Linked DNA regions of Homo sapiens: all the other regions are linked to region 1. Evidence: fine-mapped expression QTL. A gene starts in region 1. Each other region holds a variant in brackets. All regions are shown on one strand. Distances are between the middles of the regions. Region 1 holds the start of ZBTB38 (zinc finger and BTB domain containing 38). Region 2 has its middle 29 kb from the start of RASA2. Region 3 overlaps ZBTB38 (zinc finger and BTB domain containing 38). Region 4 overlaps ZBTB38 (zinc finger and BTB domain containing 38).

Region 1 (5,151 bases):
GCCAGTATAGTCCTAGACCAAGAGGATCCTGAGAGGAAAAATAAGTAAAAGGAAATAAGGAAAATGTCCTTCATGGTTCACTGGCCATGGGCAACATGATGCTTAGGGTCATAATGGACAGAGGTGTTGAGAAATCTCATCCATTGCATCTTGCCCTCATGGCCAGATGTTACCTAAGAGTGTCAGTCAGGAAAACCTAAATGTGGATAATTGTTTACTTCTCCCACTGTTTCTATGCAACTTTATCCTTGAGTATCTCCAAGTTTCTTTTATGTGCTGTGCCAGAGAGAACTACCTCTTCTTCAGAAACCCCTCCAGAGCTGTCACTGCTAAGTGGCTGCTCCACCAAGGACTACATTTCCCAGACTCCTCTGTGGTTAGCTGTGGTCATGTGATGGAGTTTTAGCCAATGGAATGTGAGTAGAAGTAACACGCACCACTTCTAGGCAGAGCCCATAAAAAACTCCCATGTGCACTTTTTCATGCTCTTTTCTTACTGCACTGAGGAGTGGAGACACCCCTAGGCGACCTTGAAAACCACATGCTGCAGAAGGCAAAGCCCCTCTCTACCTGTGTCTCTGAATGAATGCATGAAAGACAGTTGCCCCACTGACCTGTACTGTTACATGAGCAAGAAATAAACTATTGTGTTTGAGCCATTATAGATTTGGGGTTCTATTATAACAATTAGCCTATCCTAATATCCTTTTTAATATAGCTGTAATCATTGTGTACAGAAATCTCTGTGCCCTTTCCCCTTTTCTTTGAATCTTACCACAAACTAAAAAAGGAGAATTGGGAGACTTAAATTTAAGTAGCTGTTGGGGACAAATGACACTTACCAAATTAGTGGTCACAACATTCAGATCTTAGAGCCAGAAGAACAGGACTACAGCAGAGCCTCACTTCAAGACAACCTAATATATTAAAGTAAAACAAAAAGTAAAACATAAGGCCTATAAAACAGATATTTTAGTGTGTGATAGTTAATTTCCAAAGGGAGTTGTCCATTTACAAAGGAATATGCCACTGTTTTCCAGTAAATGACAAGCTTCCTTACTGCCTTTAAAATGAGACTTACGCCTCCCCGCTCCCAGTCATTTTAACATAGAATTTCTGAAGAACAGATCTCCCCTGGTACGTCAGCTATACGAAGACTAGATGCTGACTCAGGGGATGACTTAGAAGCCGGGAAAATCAGGGTATGATTTCTATGCCTACGTGCTGTTCTCATGTATGTGTCAAAACTTTTCTCTTGGGAACTTAACTTTCTTGGGTAGGAACTTCCAGAGGTCGTGAAATTATAGGCTTTGTAAAGAACTATGAGTTTTTAGACAAAGTTAAAACAGACACATTGTGTCTTTGTGCTTAATATCATCCCAGATACGATGGCACAAGTAGGAATGAAAATAAGTCCTCTGTAAACAGGGCGATAAGATAATGGAGGTTCATACACAGAACAATCAGAAACGTGCTCAGTAAAGGCAGCACAATTATGTACATCTTTTTACCAGGGCTGTCATATTTTACCAGGTTAAGTGTGAAAATACCATTTGATGGCACAGGACACGTATTTGCCTAGAACAGGGTTTATTTTTATGTCTGATCGCTCAGTATAAGATCTAGGAAGCAAACAATCCAGAACTCTGAACAAACATTCTGACAGCCTGAAACGGAATACTCAGGTGAGGGGAGGAAGAGGAGGCAAAACAAGAGGGTTGACAGGGAAAGGCATCAGTTGGGCTGTTCTCCCCAGGGTTTCCGTCTTAGTATTGTTTTTTTTTTTTTTTTTTGCATTCTTTTCTGATCCTGTGGAGAGAGATATCAGATCCCTTTGGGGCCGTATTTAGAGGGTCTCCCAAATGCAGTCCCTACTCCCAACTCTGGGCTGGGGCTTGGCAAGCTGTAGGCGTCAGGGAACAAGATGGCGCCCTACGGTGAAGGGCGCTGAGTGAGGGGGGGCCAAAAGTGGGCCTTCACTTACTCGGAGGCGCTGGCTCCTCTGAAACCCAGACGCTGTCAACTCCCTGGGCCCAGGAGTCACAACCGCTTTCGTGCTCTGGGTTCTTCACTTCTTGTGATCAGCTCCACATATTTTTCTGATGATGTCACCCATTCTGACTTCCTACATTTTGAAAGTTGATCTACAAGTAAAATCTTTCGTGAGGCTTAAAAAAAAGAAGAAAAGAAATAAAAGGTGTGCTATAGGGAGATGGAGAGGAAGAGAAAGGCCGTTGCCTCTTTATTTTGAGATTTGCTGCAGCTGCGAGTGCCACTCCCCAACTAGTTTCCTGGCTTCAGAGGGAGGCCAGTGGCCGGGCGTGGGTGACGTCAGGGCCAGGCCTGAGTCATCGCCAGCAGCCCGGGCCGGGCTGCCCTGCCACTCGGAAGGGGACAAAAGGAACCTTTGATGTCCAGAGGCCCTCCTCTCAGCACACTCGCCGGCACAGACCAGCAGGCCAGGAGAACATTCCTGCCGTCTCCCCACCCCCAGCCGCCCTTCCTACTTCCGGAACAGCCCCAGACAGATTCAACAAGGCCTCCCCAAAGGACATCACCCTCCTGCATGGCAGAGGCATGGCCGTGCTCTGTCAGAGAAGCAGGGAAGAAGAAGAGGGTGTTTCCCTGGGGACCTCTCACTGCCCCTCTGCCATCCCCCTTCTTCTGTGTGGTGCCCACCTTACTCAAGGAGTTGCAGTGGTATTGAAAGAGATGCGGAAAGGTGGAAGGCACTTTTGTCACCATCCCCGGGCAGCTCCTGGTGGTCAGTGTCTATTCTCCTCTGCCTCTGTGCTGTGGCCCTGGGCTTCGCTCCCTACCCTGGGTGCCAACATGAACTAGCTCTTCCTGGATTTAAGACATGACCACTCTTTAAAGGGGATATTTATATCTCAGTGCCTGGCATGAGGCTTGGTAATTATATGATGAATTAAGGAATGATAATTGTAAAATAAAATAGTAGAGGACACATATTAAATACTTAGAGTGAACATTCAAGCCTCTGTGCTTTATGAAGATTATTTCATTTATTGGTATTATCACAACAAAAAAGCTGTGAGGTAGGTACTATTAATATTCCTAATGCTATAGAGAAAGAAATGGATGCTCAGAGAGGTTAAGACACTTCTCTAAAGCCTCACAGCTAGTTAGTTCATGGCAGAGCCTGGATCATCTAATCTCACATCCTGTTTTCTTAATCACGGTGCTGAGTGGCTGGAGTGAATGAAGGAATATTGACCAAGGGCAACCTGGCCAGGAGAAAAGAGACAAAGATGGGACTTGAAACCACATCCTACAAGGAAACAATGAAACAATTAGGAATGTTCTGGCAACATGGGCCTCATGCCTTCTTACTGCGTCAACACCAGGTCTGAGGTTTGGCAAGTGGGTGGCTTACTCAGCGTAGCCAGGAGGGCGAATCAGTCATCAGGTTCAAGTGGGGATGAGAAACTAGGGAGGTCGGATGGACGCAAGCCTGTGGCATGTGGTAGATGCAAAATCCGAGAGCCACGGGGTACAGAGTACCTCGGCGGGAGCCAGAGTCCACGCTTGTCTTTGTTGCCTTCTGGCCTCATGGATGTAGGTGGGAGGGTCAGTCCATCTGGGGTGGACAAGAAGGCTACAGGAAGAAGGACATGACGGCACTCTCAAAGATTCCAGACTCAGAAAGAGTTGGAACTGTGGTGTGGTTTTAGAGTGCAGGAGGAGTGAGAAGGGATTGGGAACAGATCTGGACCTGACAATGGTAGTTACTTTCTACTCTTAGCGCCCTCCTACCAGGAATCAGCTGCCTTTCTGGGCCTGAGGAAGAGTCCTGGCAATGGCTGTGGGCAAGCAAAGGCGAGGAGGGGTGGTGAGAAGAGAACATCTGCTTATCGGGGTATCTGGGCCCAGCATAAGAATGACCTACGAGGTAGCTTCTCCCTCTGTGGTTTATGATTCTGTGGTTTGTACTTTTCCATGATTCTCTTAGAGTAAATGTCTCATTCCAAGAGGAAGACAAAACCAGGAATTTCCAGCCCCTTGTGGAGGCCTCCTTGATAACACACCCACAGCTTTCCTTCCCACTGTGGGTGGGGTGTCAGGTCACAGAGACCACTCTCCCTGACTCAGGCAATCTATGCCTCTGATGCCTGGGACATTGTGTAGTTCTACCTTGTTCCTGGGAGCTCTGCCAGTTGCCACTCTGAGGAATTGCACTTGTTCCATGTAGTTTGAATCCCTAGGCAGGTGGAATTTATAGAGGTGAATTTCACAAGAGAGAAAGCTACATGCTTTTAATCAAGGGAGCAGCAGCAACTGATCAGGTTCACTGTCAGTGTCTGCACACAGCCTGATCTTGGGCTGAGGAAATCGCTTTAAGTTCCAGGCATTTTTGGCAGAAGACTTGTTTATTCTTTTCTTCCTTCTCTGCAGAAAATGCCTCTGGGCACCTCCCTGCTCTGTTTCCCCAAAGACTCAGTGGCCTTGCTTGCTTCATATACACAGGTATTTATTTCTCTAATAAGATGAACAGAGGCTGATTATTTCTTCACCCTGCATCCTATCAGGATAATGTGAACAGAAAAATAAAGAAAAGAAGCAGAAATGATCAGTAAGCTTAAGTGAGACACAGATTCTTGGGTTATATGCTCTGGGGTTGATACTAACAGTGAAAATAAAATCAGAGAACTGGGAAAAATATCCACTTGGAGATACAGAGAAGTAAGTACAATGGCACTTCCCTGGTCTCTACGTGAAGTGGAGCATCCTCCTCCTTTGCTACAACAAATGCAGTTAAATGCTGGTAATTAAAACCAAACCTTTATGAATGCAAGGAATTCCTTGGAAGACTTGTCTATACTTGTTGACTTAGATTTCTCTCATTTTATTCCCTCTCTTTAAAAAAAATTATTAAGGTATAATTTACATATCAGAAAGTTCACTCACTTAAAGTGTACAATTCAATGGGTTTTAGTGTATTTACAGAATTATGTAATTTGTAATCTATTTTTTTTTAACACTTTTTGTCACCACCCCAAAAAACACCATGCTTATTAGGTATCATTCTTCATTTGTCCCCACCTACCAGCCCTAGATGACCACTCATCTAGTTTCTGTCTCTATAGATTTTCCTCTTCTGGACATTTTCTACAAATGGAATCATACAAT
Region 2 (5,151 bases), 90 kb before region 1:
GCTGGCAAGTCAGTCCATTATACATAGGTACTGTCTGTGGCTAGCTGTTGGCCCACAGGTAGCTCATAGATGCCTCTTGTTTTTGGGAGCTTGAAAGGTGGATATCATGGGAGTAGAGAGTAGAATGATGATTACCAGCAGCTGGGAAGCAGGGGTGATCAGAGAGGTTGAATAATGGGTACAAAGATACAGTTAGAAGGAGTAAGTTCTAGTGTTCAATAGCACAGTAGGGTGACTATCGTTAACAATAATTCATTGTATATTTTAAAATAGCTAGAAGATTTGAAATGTTCCCAACATCAAGAAATGATAAATGTTTGAGGTTCCATATCATGGTATCATTTCCTCCTCTACGAGGATCTATGTATGTTACCTCAGGCCACGTTGTGTGTGTGGGGTGTGTGTATGTGCATGTGTATGCACACGGGCTTGTGTCCTGGGGTGGGAGTCTCCTCTCAGTCATCCAGGCAAGAAGCAGGTGGATTAAGTTTATGATTGGGCTAAACACGGAAAAATACAATCCAAGGTGAAAGCAGAACCCGCTGTTCTCTGTGTGTCTTATTCTGAGTATTAATGTTAAACACCCTTAGGTTTGGGATATCAAAGCCTACTACTGAGAAAAAAAAAACTGCTGATGGCCCACGCACACTTGGTTAGTGCAACACTGCCATTTATCTCCTTCAATGAGCTAAGCAGCCATCAGGTTAAGAAGAGGGCAGGGGAGAGGCGGGCACAGCCTTATTGGGATGATGCTGTCCCGCTGCTGACTCCCAGCTGGTACGGCAGTGACCTCTGCTGGCAGGATTTTCCTCTCCAGTGTGCACAGAGAGTAGGAGTTCCCTCGGAGTCTGTGTGGTTCAGTAGTGTTCTTCAGAGAGATGCCCCAAGACTGATGCTCACGGAGAGGGCCGACTGGGCTTTCCTGCTAAAACTGTCACTAAAGGCTGGGGTTACACAGTCAGGAGTTGAGACAGATTCTTACCCTTGCTTCAGTGAACTTTCTCTCAAACACATATGGCTTCTTTACGTTACTCATTTTCAGATCTAAACATATTTCTTTAAAAATATGTTCTCAAAAAGAACAAAACAAGGGTTGCTGGGCGCAGTGGCTCACACCTGTAATCCTAACACTTTAGGAGGCCAAGGCAGGTGGACTGCTTGAGCCCAGGAGTTCAAGACCAGCCTGGGTAACATGGTGAGACACCATCTCTACAAAACATTAAAAAAATTAGCTGGGTTTGGTGGCACGCACCTGTAATCGCACCTACTCAGGAGGCTGGGGTGGGAGGATAGCTTGAGCCTGGGCGTTCAAGGCTGCAGTGAGCTGAGATCGCGCCACTGCACTCCAGCCTGGGCGACAGAGTAAGACCTTGTCTGAAAACAAAAACAACAACAAGTGTCACCCAAACAAATCCATGACATTTCTTGAGAATAACATATTTACAATCTGACAAGGTGATGTGAAAACACTCTCAAAACTTTTGTGTGTGTGTAGAGGACAGGAGCTGAAGCATCCTTTACAAATACATGAATCCTACTCCTCAATTCAGCACACCACATCTTACCCACAAATAAGTGTGAAATGCTGTTGTTGGACAAGGCCTTGGCAGAACTTTTTCTTACCTATCCTGACATATCTATAATGGAATACTCCAGGCTAGAAAGCTAGACAGCCAAGTTGAAGCCATCGTGATGGCTTTGAGGGTCCCTCATGCAGAGTTACTGACTAAGCAGCCCTTGTCCACAAAGCTCTCGTCCCCGTGGAACCACGTGGTGGCACTTGATGGCCATTCCCAGCCCACCCAACCTTCTCTGATCACCGTGTTTGTCCTTGGGGTGGGGCCCCTGCAGCTATCTTCTACTATAGGGCTCTGTCCCTTTCACCAGAGCTCATCAGATCATGGGAGAACCAGTCTCTTTAGTGGGGGTGGGGAAGGAGGGCCGTGGATTCCTTTGCCTGTGAGGTCCTATAGGGCTGGCTAGTATCTTCCATCCACAGGCAGGGAGAGGCAGAGAAGGCTGATGATTAGCACAGACAGAAATGAAGAAAGGTGACACGGGGGACACAGAGATGACAAGAGGTGGAGAGAGGGAAGTTTTCTGCTTCCTGTTTCCAGCTTTTCCCTGTCCTCCCTTAGTTTCTTTTTTCCTTCCAACATCACATTTTGCTTAAGCAACTAAAGATCCCTAAGACACGAACTTCTGTTTAGTTTGCATTTAATACACAGCAGAAGAATTCCAAAAAGTTTTACTTGAGAGCTCAGAATTGGAATTACCTTCATTCCAACTACCAAGAACCCTCAGAATATTGTATGGCCTCTGTTCATCATATTTTCTGGTTAAATAAGAGTTAAGCAGAAAACTTTTTTTCTCTTTGTTTATATCTGTATTATAAAAATATGTCTAAAATGTAAACACAAAAGCAAAAGATTAGAAACAAATGCTAGCCAATTATTAGACAATGGGTTAAACATTCATACAATGTCCCATGATTTGAGGGAGCCTAAACAAATTCATACAATGGAATACTATGCAGTCACTAAAAGAATAAAAGAGATCCATATGTCCCAGCATAGAAAGTTTTCCATTATCTATTGTTAAACAAATGAAATAAGGTAGTGAGTGGCATGTGTAGTGTGCTCTCATTTATATACAACAAGAAAAAGAAAGGAAAAAATTTGTAAGTTTAAATGCACACACACATATATATATTATATATATATAAAATATATATATGCTTAGATATGCATGGGATATCTATGGAAGGACACCCAAGATCTGGTAACAGTGTATACTTTTAGGGAGAAACCTGGGGGCAGAGAGGGAGGGAGACCATTTTTCTCTGTGTACCCTTTTGCAGTATTTGAAAATTATTTTTTCTGTGTACATGTATTAGCTTTTAAAATACATACATAATACACAAGTACACAAAAATGTATTATCTCTCTTTATACTACAATTACAGAGTAGTCATTTCTCTTAATCATACGAGTTCCTGGAACTTGAGGTAGGCAGATCTTCATACATGTCCACACTGGTTGGGTCACCTATTCTAACATGTTTGCTTTCATGCATAAAAACCATTGAG[T/C]GGCCAGGTAAAAGCAGGAAGAAGTGAAGGCTGGTGTTCCTGGAACCACACAAAGTGAGGGCAGAAGGGAAATGTGGAGAGTGTAGTCTGAGCACCAGTAAGTTGATATCTGAGGTTGAGGAACTGCCAGTCAGTAAACTGGGGCTGTCATTCCTGTGTGGATTGTCATCACTCAGAGCAGCAGAGTCCTTGGACTTGGGCCTTCACTTGCTGCATTGATTAAATGGTGAAAACAAGACCTTCTTTCCAGGTTCTTCTGAATAAAGATGAAAGTATGTGCCTGGCTCAGTTAGTCTTAGCTCGATGCAGAGTGTTTTGTGGTCATTTTGATAAATTTTTCTTTAATGTGTCCTGAAAGGAGGTGCGTACCCTATATTAGTAGAGATTCTGAGTGTCAACTCTGATGTTAGATGTCCTGGATGTGGATTCAGACTCTGCTCTTGAGAGGTTATCATTAGAAATATCTCTGCTCCCTTTGAAGACTTTTTATTTTTTTTTTTGAAGAGTGTGTTTTCACTTGTTTTGGAGAACTTGATTTCACTCAGCATGGATATCTTTGTCTATCAACTGGGGAGAACCAGTCTGAGACTGAAGCTAATGCAGAGGAAAGTAAGAGAGAAAAGGGACAGAGAGTGAGGGGTTGAGAGAGATATCATTTTGCTAGAGCCCTTGAATTCAGTTTTGCTTAAAGCCAGCTATATCCTCCCCATATCATGAACAACTGGGTTTCTATCTCTGGCAATGGAGAAGGTCTTGACTCAGTTTCCTCATTCTTGTGTTGAGATTTAAAAAAACACGTGCTAGAAACCGGCTTATATGCTTCCTTCCCAATCCCATCAGGTGGCCACCAGTCACCTGATCCTGATTTCAGATATGGTCTGAAGGTGTGGCTGATGAATAAGAGGGTTAGGGGGTTTTCCTAAAGGAAATTCAGGTGCTTTCACCCATAAACATAGAAAAGGACTCAGCAGGAAAACCTGTAGCTTTCCTCCACACTGGGCAGGATGTAGTGGAAGACTTGTACTCACTGATTTTTAGGGTGGACGCTATCAAAAATTCTGAGAGGCAAATGCCTTGTGTGGGCAGCTGGAAGCAGTATGGTGAGCTTGGTTTCCCAGGAGGTTTTTCAGAGAAATGAGAGAAGTAGGAGTGACTGTGAAATCACTGAAGGATTTTAGTAGGGCTCTGGAGATTGGGTCCCAAGGTTCTTCCCTCCATTTTCTCATGCCAGACTTGTGCAGCCTGGCCAGATTTCTGTGTGGCCTAGGTGTTTCCTCACTGCTCAGGAAAGAACGTCCTATTAGTTGTTTGAAACTGAAATTGGCCAGTGAGTTCTACTTCTACCATGCCTGCTGATGCTCCTTTCCTTTCTGAAGAGGCTCTTCCCCGTTAGGGTGACCCATCGTCCTCATTTGCCTGGGACTGTCTCAGTTTTAGCACTGAATGTTTTGCAACTTGGGAGAGTCTTCAGTGCGAGGCACACCAAGGCAGTTGGTCATCTGGAGTGGCGAATCGGCACACTTCATAGATGACTTGCATTTGACCGCAGCATGCTGATGCTGGGAACATCCGGGAGGAGCTCGCTGGCTGACGGCAGAGGCAGAATTGAAAACGGCTGAATCCAGAGAGCTGTGGTGGGGCTGGAGGTCAAGGCAAGCAGAGGCGTGAGGGGCTGTCTCACACAACACTGCAAGGAAGAGGCTTTTGATGGGGCCTTTGAATTAGGTATTGAGAAATGATCACGTCTGTGGATGGGGCTGGGGTAGGGATGGGCATGAACGTTTCAGCATGGTCAGGAGCTTGTATACACAGACAGCGTGATGAGAAGCCAGGCATTTTGGAGAGTGATGACAGCCGCCCCCTCAACACTCGCAAGGCGGGGAGCAAGTGTACAGATGGAGGCGTATATATCATGTGTCTAAATATTTAAAAGGTATAAACCAGGCTAGCAAGTTCTTAATTAAATATATTCTGTTCTCCTCCCTTGACAAATATACTTTCACAGCAATCTGGAAGACCGTGTTGGAATGTGGAATTCCTAGTTTCTGGCATTTCCTGCAGGA
Region 3 (5,151 bases), 41 kb before region 1:
CCACTGTAAATCTCTTCCACGAAAGAGCATCAAAGACCTGCACAGAGACCTTGAGAAACCTTGCTCTTTGGGCTCAAGTCAGGGACTATAAGACCAGACTAAATAGGTTTAAGCAGGGACAGATCAGAATGCTGAGTAGGTTTTTCAAAAAGGAAATCCTCATTTAGGTGTCTAGGAGCCAATCACTGTGCTATTAAAACTAATCGGAAATCTCCATGCTTACATGAAAACGCACAAAAGTATGGGGAGACTGATCTGAATATGTGGGTCTCCCTTGCCTGGCAAGATAATGAATTCATCTTTGTTTGGACTGAATTGGTGGTCTTATTATCTAATTGTCATCAACTCTACAAACAGTCAGTTGTTCTAACACATGAACAGGAAAAATAACATAAATAAAACAGGGCCTAGAAACAATATCCAACTCACAAAGCAGGAAGTGACAGCTCATATCTGTCTCACCTTGCACAAAGCCTGCCTTCACGGGTTGCTGAAATAATCCCAAGATACCCTTCCAGGACTTAAACAGCCACTGGATTTTTCATGAAAATGCATCCTGGTATGAACACTCACAGTAGTGGCCAGAAAAATAGGGGTGCGCAAGCTGGGTCTTCCTCTCTCCCTGCGTAAATGTTTTAATTTCTTTCAATATTAAGTTATAATACAGCTTAGGAATTTTCATTTACATAAGAGAGGAGAAATGCTTTTGTAAGATGGAAAACAGCCTTCTGTCTCTCCCAGGTCAAAAATAAATTTGCTTGACTATCTTAATTGGCAAAAACCCAAGGGCTCCAACTGGACCGGAAGCTTTGCATCACGGTGTCCTACTGCGTGTGTCTGCTGGAAGCCCAGCAGATGTCATGGTCAGCTTGCTCTCATGGGACAATGCCAGTCCTTCTTTAAGCTTTGCTGCTGACTGCCATCTCCTGCTCTTCTGATAACCTGCCTTTTTCTGGCAGACTGGGCCTAGGACAGTGGGTTCTGTTCCCACTTTGCCACTAATGATGTGGCCTTGAGCAAGTCCTAAGACTTCTCTGGACTCTTCTTATCTGGAATGCAAAGAGGTCGGGCTAGTTTATTTCCCAGGTTCCTTGTAAGCATTAAATTTGAAAACCATGATTACCAGCCTGTCCCAATCCTTCTGTAAGAGTCTTCATTCCCTCAAAAGTGGACAATCTCCCACCCTTAAATTCATGCACTTTCCTCAAGTGTAGAGGGTTAAAGGCAGAACCCAAAGTCTGGCTAATATCGGCATATCTATGAGGACAGGAGGGAGCTACTACATTGAGACCCCTGGGAGACCTCAGACTGAGTCCCTGCCCCTGCTTGTCCCAGCACCTCTGCTTTTCTGCTCAAAAGAAAATAAAGTACTACACCTTAGAGCCGGAAGGAAACAGCCACCATTGAGCAAAACCTTCTTTGGTTATAGGTGAGGAAACCAAACAAGCAAAGTCATGCTGGGAACAATTCCTAGGCCTCCCCTCTGGATTCTCACGAATGTCTTTCTTCTCACCCCAACCCAGCCCTGCAGGGGCTCTGGGCAATTTTCCTAGCCCCCTGTAGAGTTCCTCAGGGCCTCAGAGGGTAATCAACAAACATTTACTTAGCCCTCTGGGCAATCCCCCAAGGAGCAGTTTTAAACTTTCAACTGGTATAGGCTCTGGGAACATTTAGCCCAGCACAGTGACAGTGACAGCTATAGCAAGACACAAATTGATTGATCTGATCAGTGTGGAACTCCATTGGTGTTTTACTCTAAAAGAAAGGCTTGCAGCAGCAGCACAGACAGTAGATAAGGATAGGTTAGGGATATAGGGAGGCTCCATGAGGGTGGGGTCCTGATCTCCTACCTGGCACGTAGTTGATACTAAGTAAATATTTGCTGAACAAATTCAAGTTTGCACATTATCTCTGCTCCATTTGCTTCTTGTCAAAAATTCTGAGGTTACAATAATATTAAGGATGAGGATCTCTGAGCCTCTCAGTTAAAATCAGGAACAAATACCTGTTTCATACTCTCACTATGTGGCTGGGGAGGCAGCCCAGAGTGTGGAGAGAAGAGGCTGGCCTTGTGAGTCAGACAGACCCCAGGGTGTAAAAATCTCACCTCAGGATGGGCACGGTGGCTCACGTCTGTAATCTCAGCACTTTGGGAGGCTGAGGCCGGTGGATCACCTGAGGTCAGGAGTTTGAGACCAGCCTGGCCAACGTGGTGAAACCCCATCTCTACTAAAAATACAAAAATTAGCTGGGCGTGGTGGCAGTTGCCTGTAATGCCAGCTACTTGGGAGGC[T/C]GAGACAGGAAAATCACTTGAACCCGGGAGGCAAAGGTTGCAGTGAGCTGAGATAGCGCCACTGCACTCCAGCCTGGGCAACAAGAGCAAAACTCCGTCTTAAAAAATAATAATTAAAAAAAAATAAACTCCCATCTCTACAATCTTGGCTGTAGTTGAGTTTCTTTTTGCTTCACTTGCCACACCATGTTGTCTGAGGTTCTAAAAGATGGCTGAGATAATGCATATAAGGTACAGACCTAACTCCATGAATGTCAGTTCCATCCTCTTTCCTTGGGAGCTGTGGGTATAGAGAGAGAAACTCTGTTTCTAGGAAAGGCTCCAGGCCATCAGCATCCTCCTCCAAAGAGGCAAACCAGCAAGAGGATGCTGACATCGTTTTAAAATGACTCAATATAGTTTTCATAAATATATTCCCAATAAGTCATCTGATTTCTAAACTATGTATAGAGAACATAAAGAGCAATTCCATATACATGTCAAATGTTTTATACTTTCCATATCTAAGTTAAACACCAAACATGTCTATATATCTCAATCCTTTGTTGTGAATAAACAAAGAGGGAAGCTAGAATTAGGAAGAAAAAAATGATACATTCTTTTTTTTTTTCTTTTTTGAGATGGAGTGTTGCTCTATCACCCAGGCTGGAGTGCAGTGGTGCGATCTCAGCTCACTGCAACTTCTACCTCCCAGGTTCAAGTGATTCTCCTGCCTCAGCCTCACAAGTAGCTGGGGCTACAGGTGTGCGCCACCATGCCTGGCTAATTTTTGTATTTTCAGTAGAGATGGGGTTTTGCCACGTTGGCCAGGCTGGTCCCGAACTCCTGACCTCAGGTCATCCATCAGCCTTGGCCTCCCACAGTGCTGGGATTACAGGCATGAGCCACTGTGCCCAGCCAAATGATTTTTTCATCTATAAAATGGAGTTGGGATAGATGAAGAATATGAACTTTAGCCTAAAAATTAAGTGACTTTAAGATGCAGAGATTGAGGGAAATAATACAATGACAGAGATGTTTATCCACCAGAAGACAGAGTCATGTAGAATACTTTAATGGCATGACTGTAGTGTTGTCACATATTGCTAACAAACAAGTTACAATGGTTTTGCAAACTCTGGCCATGGGGACAGGGTGTCATCACTTATTCCCCAGAAAAAGAAACTGGTTTGCAGGCAGCTTGTTACCCAGTACTGTGATCACACAGCAGAGAGCAATGAGATGATGCGGGGTGGGAGGGTGCAATAATACCACCATTCCCTGACTCTCTGGAACGTATTTGTTTTTGTCTGATTATGCATATAATCCATTAACATTAATGATATAAAAATTTTGAGTATAGACATATCTCTAGTAGAAACAGGAGTTGAAACTAGCATCTCAAATCTCAGGTTTATCTCTTCCTCTGCTTCGCAGAAATTGGCAATTGTTAATCTTCGTCACCAGCCATGACAGTGCTGTTTAAAATGCAGATTCCCTTGCCCCACCTGGGAATCTACATTTTGACAAGTTCCCCAGGTGGATTCTTGTCCATACTAAATTGATGATCACTGGGACTAACCCAGAATAAATCAGTGGTAATAGGAGATGTGTGCTTTCTGTGATAAAATTAAAAATTAAAATGAGTCTTAAAGATAAGGCTTTACGTGTAGATGCACAATATATAAATTTACATATCTATACAAGGTTGTGAGGGGAAGGGAACCAATATTAATTAATTACCTACTATGGTATATAGAAATCCTGACCAAATTATGTATTAATTAGTCTTCCAAATAATCCTATATGAGTTATGCATGGAAAAAGTCAGGCTTAGAGAGAAACTCTTCTAAAGTCACAAGTCTGGAAAGTGGCCCAGCTAGGTTGTGAAACTAGATTTATCTGACCCCGGTCTCCTCATTCCATTGTACTAAGCTCATATGCACGTGAAAATGCGCAGACACGCACATGTCATACAATAGCCATATGGTAAAAGGCAATGGAATTACATTACTGTTAGAAACTTTTTGAGTCAACAGAAATGTATTTTTTAAAGGACTCAATTCTATTAAGGGATATTCTTTAATTTGTATGCTGACAACAGAATACAGTGTATGACTACTATCAAAACCACATTTAACAGCCTGAATTTTCATAATCAGAAATGTGTTTTGGGACTTGCCGGGGACAAATTTAAGAGTGATTCTTGATTTGTGTAAATTTGAGTGGTTTAATTTGTGTAAATTAAACCACTTAATATTCATCATACACGTCATATTACCTTAAAAAGGAAAACACCAACAATGTAACTTTGCACTTGTGAATCCACCAGTCTTCCTAAGCTCATCCCTCACCTTCCACGGTCTGACATGCCTGGCTCCCTCCATTAGGAACCCCCTTCCGCTGGCTTCTGGAGTTGCATTCCTCCATGGTTCTTCCTTACTATCTTGCCAGACTTCTATCTGCTTCCCTAGATCTTCCTTTCTTTTCTCAAAAGGCTCCATCCTCAACCATTTTTCCCCTATATTCTCTCTCAAAAATCTCTTTTCCCATCTCTTGACTTTTTCTTATAAACCAAAGACTCCCAAATGAGCCCTGGCCTTCTTGTGGAGCGCAAAGCCCCCTTCTGCCTGGGAGACAGCATGCTTCAACACTGCAAACACAGCACCTCTAAAATGTAGCTCCTTACCTCCTTCTGAGTTTCCTCCATGGGTACCACTGCTCTGGAAATCGCAGTGTCAGCTTTAGCTGTTCCTTCACTGAGACATCAGATTCTGTCAGTTCTTCCCTTTGCATCTATTCCTTTCCCATTTCATTGTTATCATCCATTTCAGGCCTTTTCTGCCCCTCTTTTTCCTTGGTGGGTTGTAGTAGCTTAA
Region 4 (5,151 bases), 71 kb before region 1:
TGTTAAGGGTCTCATCATCATTCAAGGCTGCTGCTTTGAACTACTAGAGCTGGGCAATGCCATGGTCCTGCCAGAAGCTTCCTGCCTATTTTCAAAGAGAAATCTGATGATCCAGTCACAACCATGAAGCAGGAAAATGATTTTTTTTTTTTTGAGACAAAGTCTCGCTCTGTTGCCCAGGCTGGAGTGCAGTGGTGTGGTCTCCGCTCACTGCAACCTCCACTTCCCCGGCTCAAGCGATTCTCTCACCTCAGCTTCCTGAATAGCTGGGACCACAGGTGAGAGCCACCACGCCCGGCTAATTTTTGTATTGTTGGTAGAGACAGGGTTTCGCTATGTTGCCCAGGCTATTTTTTTAAATGAATTTTCCTTAAGTGGTACCTATATGCAAAGCTATTGCCCACTCAGAGAAGAAGCAAGAACTGAAGGAGCCCTTCCTAATTTGTGGCTCATAAGGGTCAATCTCTAGAGTTGCAGGGTGTGTAACCAAGTCTGACCACCAGGGGCACCCCCGCCTCTCTGCGCTATTGGCCCTATGGTGACTCATCAGGTTCCTTTTCTAGTTTCCCCTTTAGTAGAGACAAAGTAGACTAGGGTTTTCAAAAAGAACTGTCAGGTACTGAAGGCAACTAAAAAGGAGACAAAATGTAAAACCAGGAAAGGACATTTCTAAGTCCTTTGACAAGAACGGACAAGAATGAATCTAGTCATAGATTCCTGAATTAGCACAACTTCAAGGCACAGTGGCTCTTGTTCTGGTCTGAGGATCCCATCTCCATTCTTCTCTGTATTTTCTATATTCTCTATATAAGTCCTATTCCATGAGTCTGGTGTGCTAAAGCTTACTAACTGATATTATAGTGAGGGGCAGTGAAAAGTAGCAGCTTTCATACTTCCCACAGTAAGAGATACACAGTACATAGTGACCTAAGACACAAATGAAATTAACACTCACCCTTACTAGGTGTGATGCATTCTGTTCTGCTCTAGTATTTTTCTTTTCTTTCTTTTTCTTTTCTTTTTTTTTTTTTTTTTTGAGATTGAGTCTCGCTCTGTCACCAGGCTGGAGTGCAATGGCATGATCTCAGCTCACTGCAACTTCCGGCTCCAGGGTTCAAGCGACTCTCCTGCCTCAGCCTCCCGAGTAGCTGGGACTACAGGTGCATGCCACCACGCCCAGCTAATTTTTGTATTTTTAGTAGAGACGGGGTTTCACCATGTTGGCCAGGATGGTCTCGATCTCTTGACCTCGTGATCTGCCCGCCTCAGCCTCCCAAAGTGCTGGGATTACAGGTGTGAGCCACTGCACCCAGCCTTTTCTTTTAAAGAATGCTTACAGCAACTCACTAATTTCACTACCCAGTAATAGATCACCACATGCAGTTAAAAGTAAAGCAAAACAAACAAACAAAACACACACACAAAAAAACCCTCTGGTCTACAGAACATACTAACCAGAGATTCATCCAGTCTCTCTGTGCTATTCTGTATTAAGAGACGTCTCCAGAAAGCCTTACAGTTTGATGATACTTCTTTAACTCTCAGTGGCAATGTTTTCCTAGCAGTAAAGTATAACATTTAGCTCATGGCATTTATTTAGTTGGATGGACCAGATGGCCACACAAAGAACCTCTCTACCTTTTTGTAAAGCTGCTATTATAAGCTGTGACTATTATGTTATTTAGTGTCCTTTATACAAGGATCCATTTGATAAATTCTTTTATTGTATCCAGTCATAGGAAAAAAGTACCTTTCTACTAACAAATTCTTCAATTCAGATAATGAGAACACTATATTCACCATGTTTCTGTTTTAATTCTCAAGACAAAGAAGCTCAGAACTAACTTTTATCATCAATTGTTGTAGCTATTCTTGGCCTGGGTTTCTGGTGTGCCTATTGTTTCATTTTCTTTATTTAACATTAGTTCTTCTGCTCTTGTTTACCCTGCCTTTAACTGTAATCTTCCATGAATCTTTTCTAGAAGTATGGGGGATTATTTCTACAAATAAAACTAGAATGAAATGAAATGGAATCTTATGACTTCCTCTTTGCCCCTGAAGGGAGAAAGGGTGACCCCGGAGTGAAGGAGTCTGTCCTTCACTGGGTCACAGATCAATAGCATACTTTGCTGATGTTTCTTTTGCCTTCTTTCAAGTCTCTCGGCTCTGGGCCCCTGTAGGATCTCCTTTCTCCCCTGACTCATATATTTTTATCATGTTTGGCTTCTTGGAAGCCCACATGTTATTTTAATTCTTTATCAGCCTGACTAGATAGCTTCAGATCTGACAAAACACATGCTATATGATTCAAAAAGGTGGCTTAGGTCTATGCTGACATCATCTATTTTGTCTTTCCAGTTCAAAACTACTGCTTCTTCCAAAACATTCTGCTTCACAGCATCCTGAACCTCCCTTTAGGCTCTGCTTCCATTTGCGGAATACGGCATTTCAAATCAGGCTAATGAACACTCTAGGGTGTCCTGACTCAGATTTATAATATACAAAGCCCCAACCACTTCTGTGGGGTTCTGATTCTTCTCTCAGATTGTTCAACTAGGATGGTTAGCAAAAGGCCAACTCTTAACATGGAATAATATTGTAGTCATACTTAACAGAACAACATATACAATAAATATCATTATATATGTCATTAAAATATTGTCATAACTTTGCAAAATCCAAGCATGACATTTTTCAG[C/A]GGGGATATCTACCTTTGTGTGTCAGAAAGCCTTTAAAAATCATAGTTAATAAGTAGCACCTTGATTTGCCTTCTTGACACACCTTTTAACAACTTTATCCAGCAAATATGTTAATATGGTCAGACACAGTACTTGGGTGCTAGAGTTATACTGGAGATATGAACAGGAGGAAGGCAAGTCTCTGCTCTCAAGGAGCCCAGAGTCTAGGGGAAGAAAGAGAACTGTCAACTAATCATTGGAATCCATGATGGCAGGCCATATACTGGAGATAAGTATAAAATGTTAGAAGAGTAAGTACAATTATTTACAGAGGCCCTGGATTACTTCCATAAATAAGTAAAACAGGGGTATAGGAAGGATGCTGTAAGCAGAAGGAACACTATAGGCAAAAAAAAAAAAAAAATTAAAAATGATCAAAGTGGGTACTGTTCTCAGGGGCTAATGAGGGAGTCTGAGTGGTAGCAGGAGTAGTGTGTGCAGCCCAGTCGACAGCGTCTATGTGGGGCCAGGCACATGGCAGGCCTCAGCATGTATCTGTTGAATGAGAGAGCTTGGGAAAGAAGGGTCAGACCAGATCATAAAGGGCCCTAAAGGACTCCCTACAGTTAAATTTTATATTGCAGGGAATAGGGAACCATTGAGAGTTATAATGAAATTTGAGCTTTTTTAAAAAAAAATCACGCAGCCTGCAGTATGCTGAAAGGCTCAGAGGGAGGCAGGCTGCAGGCAGGAGACCAATAGGCCATCACAGTGGTCCAGGTAAAAAGTAGCTATCCACCCCAGACAGAGTGAGAGCCTGGGGAAGAACAGATGACTCCACTTCCCAGCTAATAAAGTGGGATGGGGTGGGCCAGGCGTGGTGGCTCATGCCTGTAATCCCAGCACTTTGGGAGGCCGAGGCAGGTGGATCACCTGAGGTTGGGAGTTCATGACCAGCCTCACCAACATGGTGAAACCCCGTCTCTTCTCAAAATACAAAATTAGCCGGGCATGGTGGCACATACCTGTAATCCCAGCTACTCGGGAGGCTGAGAGAGAAGAACTGCTTGAACCCGGGAGGCGGAGGTTGTGGTGAGCCAAGATTGCGCCATTGTACTCCAGCCTGGGCAACAAGAGCGAAACTCCGTCTCAAAAGAAGAAAAAAGAAAAAAAAAAAAGAAAGAAAGTGGGATGGGGTGTTGGAGGTGGTGATGGCATCTGAATTCAAAATTTAATTCTCTTAACAAATATTTATTGAACAATTGCTAGGCAGAAGGCATCAGCTAAGTGCTATAGAAAGACATGCGTTCAATCAGCTGGGCATAGTGGCGTGCGCCTGTAGTCCCAGCTACTCGGGAGGCTGAGGCAGAAGAATTGCTTGAACCCAGGAGGCAGAGATTGCAGTGAGCCAAGATTGCGCCACTGCACTCCAGCCTGGGCAACAGAGCGAGACTCCATCTCAAAAAAAATAAATAAATAAAAGAAAAAGAAAAAGAAAAAAGAAAGGCAAGCGTTCATCCCTCCTTTGAACGAATGCTTACTGAATACCTATTATGTGCTTTGAGACATTGGTTCCTAAACCTGGTCAGGCATCAAAATCACCTGGGAGGTATTCAGATAGTACAGCTTTACAGATTCCACCTCCCCTGCTCCTATAGAGATTCTGGTTTAGAACAGCTGGAGTGAGACCCTGGAATCCATATGTATTTTTATACCTTAATTTCTCTTGTGAATAAGTAATACATACATATAATTATCAAATTGAAAAAGCACACAAAGTAAACATTGGAAAGTCTCCTTCCCACCTTGTTCCAGAGGAGCACCTTATTTCAGGTAGTTTTTAATCAACCAGCCAGAACCGTTCTAAGGGCTGACACTAAAACTCAGTGCCATAAGAGAAACAAAAATTCTACACTCAAAGGTTTGCAGGGTGGCAGGGGAACTAAGATGTGCTCATGAAACACTGCAAAACAAAGATACCCAGGGAACATCCAGGATCAGGCATGCAGGGAAAAGGTATGGGAGTTCAACAGAGAGTAAGGGAGGCAGAAGGACGTGGTATGTACTGGATCCTGCTGCTGGAATTGAGTGCTGCAGATATGGACAAGAGGAGAAAAGGGAACTTCAGGCAGAAAGAGACAGAGTCAGAGTTTCATGCCCTCAAGAAGTTTATAATCCAGGAGTCAATGCAACTGCTTAAAACAAAGAGTCCAAATCTGCGAATGGAACTTGAAAAAAAGCAGTGAAACTTGTTGGAGAAGCAATTTAAAGTTAAGACTCTAGTATCCACCTCTCCAATCTTAACAGTGCCCGCTCCCAAAACCACCAAGTATCGTCAAAACTGTCTTTAGAGCACAGTTATCCAGCTCATTGGATGATCTCAGAAAGTGCTACGGCTAAAAGCTATTTCACAGGTCCAAAGTGCAACAAGGAAATGAGTTCTAAATCTGCAGACCAAAGGAGGCCCACTGTA

The links. PIP is the estimated chance that this variant, and not a neighbour inherited with it, causes the effect.
Region 2: its variant is fine-mapped to the expression of ZBTB38 in whole blood (TOPMed, PIP above 0.99).
Region 3: its variant is fine-mapped to the expression of ZBTB38 in whole blood (INTERVAL, PIP above 0.99).
Region 4: its variant is fine-mapped to the expression of ZBTB38 in whole blood (TOPMed, PIP 0.99).

The regions. Positions count from the first base shown.
Region 1 is chr3:141,365,638-141,370,788 of GRCh38, reverse strand. It overlaps ZBTB38 (zinc finger and BTB domain containing 38), which reads right to left and starts at 2,285. Exons shown (of 6, transcript NM_001376113.1): 1 at 1,985-2,285; 2 at 843-917. RefSeq lists enhancers at 1,159-1,934, 2,389-2,618, 1,684-2,883, 2,711-3,486.
Region 2 is chr3:141,455,941-141,461,091 of GRCh38, reverse strand. No RefSeq gene overlaps it. Among named protein-coding and RNA genes, the nearest start is that of RASA2, 29 kb to the left of the region's middle. RefSeq lists an enhancer at 4,871-5,151. The variant T/C (reference allele first, on the strand shown) is at 3,089.
Region 3 is chr3:141,406,306-141,411,456 of GRCh38, reverse strand. The region is part of intron 5 of ZBTB38 (zinc finger and BTB domain containing 38); the gene reads right to left. Among named protein-coding and RNA genes, the nearest start is that of ZBTB38, 40 kb to the right of the region's middle. RefSeq lists an enhancer at 1,561-1,650. The variant T/C (reference allele first, on the strand shown) is at 2,294.
Region 4 is chr3:141,436,918-141,442,068 of GRCh38, reverse strand. The region is part of intron 5 of ZBTB38 (zinc finger and BTB domain containing 38); the gene reads right to left. Among named protein-coding and RNA genes, the nearest start is that of RASA2, 48 kb to the left of the region's middle. The variant C/A (reference allele first, on the strand shown) is at 2,699.